Linked DNA regions of Homo sapiens: region 2 is linked to region 1. A link means that fine-mapping ties the variant in region 1 to the expression of a gene that starts in the linked region. Tissue or cell type: whole blood. Region 1 holds a variant in brackets; the other region holds the start of a gene. All regions are shown on one strand. Distances are between the middles of the regions.

The links. PIP is the estimated chance that this variant, and not a neighbour inherited with it, causes the effect.
Region 2: it holds the start of ZNF554, and the variant in region 1 is the best candidate, but not a certain one, in a credible set for the expression of ZNF554 in whole blood (INTERVAL, PIP 0.63).

Annotation. Positions count from the first base shown.
Region 1 is chr19:2,848,968-2,854,114 of GRCh38, forward strand. It overlaps ZNF555 (zinc finger protein 555), which reads left to right. Exons shown (of 4, transcript NM_152791.5): 2 at 1,620-1,746; 3 at 2,501-2,684; 4 at 3,413-5,147. The coding sequence ends at 4,985. Among named protein-coding and RNA genes, the nearest start is that of ZNF555, 10 kb to the left of the region's middle. The variant C/G (reference allele first, on the strand shown) is at 2,948.
Region 2 is chr19:2,817,187-2,822,333 of GRCh38, forward strand. It overlaps ZNF554 (zinc finger protein 554), which reads left to right and starts at 2,682. Exons shown (of 5, transcript NM_001102651.2): 1 at 2,682-2,938. The coding sequence starts at 2,886. RefSeq lists a silencer at 2,721-3,160 and an enhancer at 3,093-3,786.

The DNA.
Region 1 (5,147 bases):
AAGGCCCGCAATGTTAACTTCTTTCGGCATATGGGAACTTTATTATTAAAAAACACTGCAAATACACTGCACTATGAGCAATTAAGGCTAACCCAGGGAGCTCATATTGTCCCCTGTGCCAGTAGGAGGGTCCTGTAGATACTCTGCAGCTCTGTGAATAGGACTGTTCTAGCATCAGAATTGCTGCGTGACAGTATTTTGTCTGTCTCCTGCTCATAGACGGAAAGGAGTTGATCTTTCTCAGCAGGTTTGAGGGAACCGTGCATCTCGGGGGTTCCATGCACCTGTGCCCAATATGCAATATGGAAATAATGAGAAATTGAGAGTGCAGCCTCTAGAGTGGTATGTGGGGAATCACTTCCTCCTGGAATTTGAGACACAGAATTTTCTAGGAAGGCACTATTTTGTCTATGTCTTTTATAACCATTGAAAATTCGTAGTCAAATGGTTTGGACTTCAGTTAACTCCTTTGCAAAGTGGGACTCTTAACTTTATCCTTAAGGTTAGCAATAATACTTTTTTTTTTTTTTTTTCTGAGACTGAGTCCTGCCCTATCACCCAGGCTGGAGTGCAGTGGCATGATCTTGATGCATTGCAACCTCTGCCTCCCGGGTTCAAGCAATTTTCGTGCCTCAGCCTCCCAAGTAGCTGGGACTACAGGCGTGCACCACCATGCCCGGCTAATTTTTTTTTTTTTTTCAGTAGAGATGAGGTTTCACCATGTTGGCCAGGCTGGTTTTGAACTCCTGACCTCAAATGATCTGCCTGCCGCGGCCTCCCAAAGTGCTGGGGTTACAGGCATGAGCCACCACACTTGGCCCAAGAATACTTTCTTTCGGCTCTGGTGAAAAGAGCTGTTTTGGCATTGTGTGCACCTCGCTCTGTGTATACTTAGTGAGTGTGCCTGTGTGTACGAGAGAGAGCCAGCGTGTGAGAGAGAGAGAACCCAGAATTAATTGTTGGGCTTCCGTCACTGAGGCTCGAAGTATAGGGAATGTGTGGAGGTCTACGTTCTCGTGTCTTTTTCCTCTTTCCTAAGGTCTAATTTCTCAATAACTTCTAGTTTCCAAGTTAAAATCAATACTTCTCAAAAGAATGTTTTCATTCAGCCAGTTGGACCAGGAGTTCTTTAAGACGCTATGGCTACCTGGCCCTTATGAAGGAAATAGAAGGGAATGTTCCCAATCCTTCAGTGTTTTTATCCCATAAAACTTCAGTTTTGACCCTGTGCTTTGTGTAGTGCCGAATGATGGTGTGTGCAGCAGGGGAGGAGCTAAAACGGTTTGTGTGACAAGGCACTGATGGTCTTAAAATACAAGTATTTGTTTCACTTATATAGCATTTGTTTGATATCTCCAATGTGGTCTGAATCCTTTTGATAGAGAATAATGTCTTCAGTTGGTCCCAGTAAAAGTATAGAGAGAAATTCAGTGTGTTAATGGTCCTGTGAAATCTATGAGGAAGTGAGTGTAGACAGGAAGGAAGAGGTGTGACAACTGAGTCACAGGGTAGATGTCAGGGAATCACAGAATCTTGTTTGAACTACATACGAATTGAGTACAATGCTCCTGGGCTCTCGGTCTCAACCATCCTCCCATAAATATGTTGAATTGTTTTAGGACTCAGTGGTCTTTGAGGATGTGGCTGTGGACTTCACCCTGGAGGAGTGGGCTTTGCTGGATTCTGCTCAGAGGGACCTCTACAGAGATGTGATGCTGGAGACCTTTCAGAACCTGGCCTCAGTAGGTAAGGATGACATCATTCCTTCCTTCACGTAGTTATTGAGAGAACAAGTATTTCTTACACATCAGACCTGTTCCAAGGCTTGGAATGTGGAAAGGGAATAAATTGGTAAATAAGACAGACATAGTCACAGCTGTCATAGAGCTAGAATGTAATGTTTTTCCATGAGAATGAGAATCTGTATTTCAGCTTTTTATTTTTGTAGAGAAAGCTCCCTTCATGTCGTCATTGTGGATATAGCTTTGATAGGCCTAGTGAAATTTGTTTGTGCAAGCCAGTGAAAATTTGATTTTTTTTTTTTTTTTTGAGATGGAGTCTCACTCTGTCGCCCAGGCTGGAGTGCAGTGGTGTGATCTCGACTCACTGCAACCTCTGCCTCCCGAGTTCAAGCAATTATCTGCCTCAGGCGCCCAAGTAGCTGGGATTACAGGCGAGCGCCACCATCCCTGGCCAATTTTTGTATTTTTAGTAGAGACGGGGTTTCACCATGTCAGCCAGGCTGCTCTTGAACTCCTGACGTTGTGATCCACCCGCCTCAGCCTCCCAAAGTGCTGGGATTACAGGCATGAGCCACCGCGCCTGGCCGTGAATTTTTTTTTTTAATAATTTTTCTATGCTTACTAATACTGTGTTGATTGAGTTGCTTACCTTTTTGACCATTTTGTGTTTAATGAAGTCCTGAGATAGCTAAACTCCTCAGTGTCGTTTTCCGCTAACAAGTGCCTTCTTATATGATTTGTTTACTTTTTGGTTTCAGATGATGAAACTCAATTTAAGGCCAGTGGGTCAGTTTCTCAGCAGGATATTTATGGAGAGAAAATACCCAAGGAATCTAAAATAGCCACGTTCACCAGAAATGTTTCCTGGGCCTCTGTTTTAGGAAAAATTTGGGACAGTCTTAGCATCGAAGATCAAACCACAAACCAGGGGAGAAATCTCAGGTGAGTTGCACTCACAAGAGAACATAGTATTTCAGGAGAGAATCTTAGTCTGTCATTAAACTTTAAAAAAGCAAGCAAACAGAAAACTCATCCAAGCCTAGCTCCAATTTGTTTAATCCACAGAATTTTTACAAAAAAATATTTCTTTAAATGTGACATAGACAGTGAGTGACATTAGAAACATAATTCAGATGGAAACCATTATCAAGAAACCCTAGGCCAGGTACGGTGGCTCACACCTGTAATCCTGGCACTTTGGAAGG[C/G]TGAAGTGGGCAGATCACTTGAGGACAGGAGTTCGAGACCAGCCTGGCCAACATGGTGAAACCCTGTCTCTACTAAAAATACAAACATTAGCAGGGCATGGTGCCGCAGGCCTGTAATCCCAGCTACTCGGGAGGCTGAGGCAGAATTGCATGAACCCAGGAGGCAGAGGTTGCAGTGAGCTAAGACTGCACCACTGCACTCCAGCCTGGGTAACAGAGTAAGACTCTGTCTCAAAAAAAAAAAAAGAAAGAAAGAGAAAGAAACCCTATACATAAGAAACACTGTTTTAATAATGGCAGTGGTCAAACCATCTTCCAGGGCATTCAGTTTATTTCATTTTCAGACAGTTCCCATGGGGTGAAAAACCTATGCTTTCACTGAAAATGGTTAAGATGCAGTCCTAATCCTAATAAATACTAACAAATCATTATTAATCAAACCAATAACATGCTTCTCATTTTTAGTAGAAATCATGGGTTGGAGAGACTCTGTGAAAGTAATGATCAATGTGGAGAAGCCCTCAGCCAGATTCCACATCTTAATCTGTACAAGAAAATTCCACCTGGAGTAAAACAGTATGAATACAACACGTACGGAAAAGTCTTCATGCATCGCCGCACATCCCTCAAGAGTCCCATCACAGTTCACACTGGACACAAACCATATCAGTGCCAGGAATGTGGGCAGGCCTACAGTTGTCGTTCACACCTAAGAATGCATGTGAGAACCCACAATGGAGAGAGACCCTATGTGTGTAAATTATGTGGGAAAACCTTTCCTCGTACTTCCTCCCTCAATCGGCATGTAAGGATTCACACTGCTGAGAAAACCTACGAATGTAAGCAATGTGGGAAAGCCTTTATTGACTTCTCAAGTCTTACTAGTCATCTCAGAAGTCACACCGGAGAGAAGCCATATAAGTGTAAGGAATGTGGGAAAGCTTTCAGTTATTCCTCAACGTTTCGAAGACACACAATAACACACACTGGCGAGAAGCCATATAAATGTAAGGAATGTGCGGAAGCCTTTAGTTATTCCTCAACTTTTCGAAGACATATGATTTCACACACTGGAGAGAAGCCACATAAATGTAAAGAATGTGGGGAGGCCTTCAGTTATTCTTCGGCTTTTCGAAGACACATGATAACACACACTGGAGAGAAACCCTACGAATGCAAACAATGTGGGAAAACCTTCATTTATCTCCAGTCCTTTCGAAGACATGAAAGGATTCACACTGGAGAGAAACCCTACGAATGCAAACAGTGTGGGAAGACCTTCATTTATCCCCAGTCCTTTCGAAGACATGAAAGGACTCATGGTGGAGAGAAACCCTATGAATGCAACCAGTGCGGGAAAGCATTCAGTCACCCCTCCTCCTTTCGAGGACACATGAGGGTGCACACTGGAGAGAAACCCTATGAGTGCAAGCAATGTGGGAAAACTTTCAATTGGCCCATATCTTTACGAAAACATATGAGAACACATACTAGAGAGAAACCCTATGAATGTAAGCAGTGTGGGAAAGCCTTCAGCTTGTCTGCTTGCTTTCGAGAACATGTGAGAATGCACCCTGAAGACAAATCCTATGAATGCAAGCTATGTGGGAAAGCTTTCTATTGCCACATATCCTTACAAAAACATATGAGAAGACATACCGCAGAGAAACTCTATAAATGCAAGCAGTGTGGGAAAGCTTTCAGTTGGCCTGAACTTTTGCAACAACATGTGAGAACGCACACTGTAGAGAAGCCCTATGAATGTAAGGAATGTGGGAAGGTCTTCAAATGGCCATCATCTTTACCAATACATATGAGACTGCACACTGGAGAGAAACCTTATCAATGTAAGCATTGTGGGAAAGCATTCAATTGTTCCTCATCCTTAAGGCGACATGTGAGAATACACACTACAGAAAAACAGTATAAGTGTAATGTAGGACATCCTCCTGCAAATGAATTCATGTGCAGTGCTTCAGAAAAGTCACACCAGGAGAGAGATCTGATCAAAGTTGTAAATATGGTGTTGCCTTTATGAGTTCCTTATCCTGAAAGTGGACACTCAAGGAGTGTGTCTGTAGTTCATTTGCAAATAAACATTTAGTTGAAAAATAATTCTCCAAATACTCTCAGCTATCCTACATGAATTTGAACAGGTAGTTTCTTACGATTCAGTAAATAAAACTTTCATCTTAGAGTG
Region 2 (5,147 bases), 32 kb before region 1:
TGCCTTAGTCGGTGTGAGAACTGACTAATGCAATTAGTGAGACTATATTATGAACCTTTATAGTGTTAGAAATAAATTTTCGGTGCCACAAAAGAAACAGCACTCGAACATTAATTTTCTCAGCACGGCAATTTTACTTCTATAGAAGGGTGCGTCTGGCAGGTGGAGCCCAGCGCCGCGCTGCGGGGCCTGCTGGGACTTGTAGTTCACAGGCTCAGGGTGCGCAGGCGCAATGCCGAGTTTGCCTCTGCGCGAGTCGGGGTTGGCGGCGCCTGAACGAGCACACCTGAACGAGGGAGGAGAAGGGGTTCTTACCCCTGACGCAGGTACCCCTACTGCTGTGTTGTTCCCCTATTGGCTAGGGTTGGCCCGCACAGTCTAAGCTGATTCTGATTGGCTGTTTTAAAGAGCAGGGGTATGAGCCAGAGTGGCGGGGTGAGTAGTTTGGCAGGAAGGACGGCTACAGAAAAGGTGACTCAGAATGACTAAGAACAGAGCAGGTGACCAAGGATAACTAAGGTCAGAGCAGGTGACAAGGGTGACTAAGAACAGAGCAGGTGACCAAGGATAACTAAGGTCAGAGCAGGTGACAAGGGTGACTAAGAACAGAGCAGGTGACCAAGGATAACTAAGGTCAGAGCAGGTGACCAAGGATAACTAAGGTCAGAGCAGGTGACCAAGGATGACTAAGGTCAGAGCAGGTGACAAGGGTGACTAAGAACAGAGCAGGTGACCAAGGATAACTAAGGTCAGAGCAGGTGACCAAGGATAACTAAGGTCAGAGCAGGTGACCAAGGATGACTAAGGTCAGAGCAGGTGACAAGGGTGACTAAGGTCAGAGCAGGTGACCAAGGATGACTAAGGTCAGAGCAGGTGACAAGGGTGACTAAGAACAGAGCAGGTGACCAAGGATAACTAAGGTCAGAGCAGGTGACAAGGGTGACTAAGGTCAGAGCAGGTGACCAAGGATAACTAAGGTCAGAGCAGGTGACCAAGGATGACTAAGGTCAGAGCAGGTGACAAGGGTGACTAAGAACAGAGCAGGTGACCAAGGATAACTAAGGTCAGAGCAGGTGACAAGGGTGACTAAGAACAGAGCAGGTGACCAAGGATGACTAAGGTCAGAGCAGGTGACCAAGGATAACTAAGGTCAGAGCAGGTGACAAGGGTGACTAAGAACAGAGCAGGTGACCAAGGATAACTAAGGTCAGAGCAGGTGACAAGGGTGACTAAGAACAGAGCAGGTGACCAAGGATAACTAAGGTCAGAGCAGGTGACAAGGATGACTAAGGTCAGAGCAGGTGACCAAGGATGACTAAGGTCAGAGCAGGTGACCAAGGATGACTAAGGTCAGAGCAGGTGACAAGGATGACTAAGGTCAGAGCAGGTGACCAAGGATGACTAAGGTCAGAGCAGGTGACCAAGGGTGACTAAGGTCAGAGCAGGTGATAGGGGCTAGGAGGGGTTGTTTACTGAAACTAGGGGCAAGGAAACGAAAAGAACGAGGAAGTTAAAGTTTAAAATGAAGAACAAAGAATAGGTGGCCGGGCGCGGTGGCTCACGCCTGTAATCCCAGCACTTTGGGAGGCTGAGGCAGGCGGATCACGAGGTCAGGAGATCGAGACCATCCTGGCTAACACGGTGAAACTCCGTCTCTACTAAAAATACAAAAAAATTAGCCGGGCGTGGTGGCGGGCGCCTGTGGTCCCAGCTGCTTGGGAGGCTGAGGCAGGAGAATGGCGTGAACCTGGGAGGCGGAGCTTGCAGTGAGCCGAGATCGCGCCGCTGCACTCCAGCCTGGGCGACAGAGCGAGACTCCATCTCAAAAAAAAAAAAAAAAAGAACAGGGGAGCTGAATATACGGAAACATTGGTTCTTTGGAGAGGAGCTCATAACTGATTGTACTTAACAATTTACAGGCTAAAACCTTTGAAGAGGAATTTGTTGTATCCTACAACAGTATATTAATTATAGTAGTTTTACTATTTTAATTTCTCATAAATAACAATCAGTAGAATATTAAATAAATATTTAAACAATAATTTAATTTGGCTGGGCGTGGTGGCTCACGCCTGTAATCCCAGCACTTTGGGAGGCCAAGGCGGGCAGATCACTGGAAGTCAGGAGTTCGAGACCAGCCTGGCCAACATGGTGAAACCGCGTCGCTACCAAAAATATAAAAAATTAGCCGAGTGTGGTTGTGCACGCCCGTAATCCCAGCTACTTGGGAGACTGAGGCAGGATAATCGCTTGAACCCGAGGGGGCGGAGGTTTCAGTGACCTGAGATCATGCCATTGCACTCCAGCCTGGGCGACAAGAGCGAAACTCAGTCTCAAAAACAAACAACAATTACTTAAGCAATCATTTTAATAAGTATGTAATACATTATACGTTTATATAACTTGCTTAATAAATAATAGTAGTTATTAATATCCAATGGCAAGCCGCCGGGAAACGACGGAGCTGGGATTTGAGGATTGGCTCCGCGAACCCCACAACACCCGGGGACTCCAGCGAACCACACGGGGTGGATCCAACAGCCGCAGGGGCATCGTGGTCCTGCGGAGACGCCGCCCGCCCGGAGGCGGCGCTGTGACCCAGGTTGGAGAGTCAGGAGCCCAGCGCCGCGCTGCGGGGCCTGCTGGGACTTGTAGTTCGCAGGTTCGGGGTGCGCAGGCGCAGTGCCGAGTTTACCTCTGCGCGCGTCGGGGTTGGTGGCGGCGGCTGCGGCGAGTTCCTGAGGGGCGCCTGCGGGGGGCGTCCGCTCCGAGCGCCGAGGAGCCGAGCGGAGGAGGCGTCCCAGGGACACGCAGGGGAGGCCGGCCGGCCTGCACGGGGCGCTCCCGCCTCGGGGGCCCTGTCTGGCGCCTCAGCGCGCGCCCCGATGGTCACCTGCGCCCACCTGGGCCGGCGCGCGCGGCTCCCGGCAGCTCAGCCGTAAGTGCCGCCGCCTCCCGCGCCGCGACCTCCGTGCCGGGCCTGCCGGGGCTCTGGTGGGGCTGGGTCTGGCGGGGCCGGGTGGCCGGGGCATGACCCTGTCGCGATAGGGTCCCCACGGGAGGGTCGGGAGCCGGCAGCTCGCCCAGGGCCCCAACGCCCAGGATGGCACGGTCTGCCCTTGCCCTGTGAAAACGCCCCTGGGTGAGAGACGCATAAGCTTTCCGAGGCCCAGCCTGCAAGGAGAGGGAGAAGACGCATTGACTCTACCCTAAAGGCAGAGAGGGGCTGCCACGCTCGCACTGCAGTGAGGCCACATCAGAGGGTCTGAGCGAGGGGCGGTCCTGCCCTCCAGGGGACACCGGGCGATGTCTGGGGACGTCTGTGGTTGTCATAACTGGGGGCAGTTCCTGGCATGGAGTAGGTGGAGGCCAGGGATGCAACTCAGCACCCTGCCCAGCCCAGAGAATGACCCAGGCTCCAGTGTCCACAGCGCCCTGAGGGAGAGACCTCACTTATACGTTAGCACCGCTGTCCTGGTGATAAGACAGCAAGGGTCCTTTTTTTTTTTTTTTTGAGACGGAGTCTGGAGTGCAATGGCATGATCTCGGCTCACTGCAACCTCCGCCTCCCGGGTTCAAGCCATTGTCCTGCCTCAGCCTCCCAAGTAGCTGGGATTACAGGCGTATGCCACCACGCCCGGCTAATTTTTGCATTTTTAGTAGAGACGGGGTTTCACCATGTTGGCCAGGCTGGTCTCGAACTCCCACCTCAGGTGATCCACCCGCCTCAGCCTCCCAAAGTGCTGGGATTACAGGCGTGAGCCACCGCGCAGCTGCAAGGGTCTATTCTGTTTATACCCACCACCCATGTTGAGGAATGAGGGAGGCAGCTGACCTTTCTGCTGCTCTAGCAACCCCAACCTCCCTGAACTCTCCCCTACCCAAACAGGTTGGTTTCTTTTTCTTCTTCTTTTTTTTTTCTTGAGACAGTCTCGCCCTATTGCCCAGGCTGGAGTGCAGTTGCACGATCTCGGCTCACTGCATCCACCTCGTGGGTTCAAGTGATTCTCCTGCCTCAGCCTCCCAAGTAGCTGGGATTACAGGTGCACGCCACCCCGCCTGGCTAATTTTTATATTTTTAGTAGATACAGAGTTTCTCCATGTTGGCCAGCCAGGCTGGTATCGAACTCCTGACCTCAGGTGATCCACCTACCTCGGCCTCCCAAAGTGACCACTGCGCCCGGCGCCTTTGGTTCTTACATGAGCCTCCTGGAGCTGCTGTGACAATGCACCACAAACCAGGGGGCAGGGGGAGGCTTGAAATTTATTCTCTCACAAGTCTGGAGGCCAGAAGCCCAACATGAAGATGTGGTGGGGCCGTGGTGCTTCTGAAGGCTCTGGCGGGAGGATCTTCTCTGTCTCTTCCAGCTTCTGGGGGTGGCCTGCCATAGTTGGTGTCCCTTGGCTTGGGGCCACATCACTCCAAGCTCTGCCTGCATCATCATGTGGCCTTCTTCCCTGTGTCTCTTTCTCCTTTTTTGTTTTTATTTTTATTTTTTGAGATGGGGTCTCGGTCTGTCACCTGGCTGGAGTGCAGTGGCACGATCTCGGCTCACTGCAATCTCTACCCCACAGGATCAAGCAATTCTGCCTCAGCCTCTCGAGTAGCTGGGATTACAGGTGCACGCCACCACACCCAGCTAATTTTTGTATTTTTAGTAGAGACGGGGGTTTTGCCATGTTGGCCAGGCTGGTCTCGAACTCCTGACCTCGTGGTCTGCCCGCCTTGGCCTTTCAAAATGCTGGGATTACAGACGTGAGTCACCTAGTCCAGCTGTCTCTTTCTCTTATAAGGACAATACTCATGACCCCAGTAGCTGGAAGAGGCGGAAGGATTTTTCCTGAGAGCTTTTGTTTCTTCTTTTCCTTATCTTTTCTTTTTGAGATAGAGTCTTGCTCCATTGCCCAGGCTGGAGTGCAGTGGCACAGTCTTGGCTCACTGTAACCCCTGTCTCCCAGGTTCAAATAATTATCGTGCCTCAGCCTCCTGAGTAGCTGGGTTTACAGGGATGTGCCACCACACCTGGCTATTTTTTTTGTATTTTTAGTAGACGAGGTTTCACCATGTTGGCCAGGCTGGTCTTGAACCCCTGGGCTCAAGTGATCCTCGCGCCTCAGCCTCCCAAAGTGCTGGGATTACAAGTATG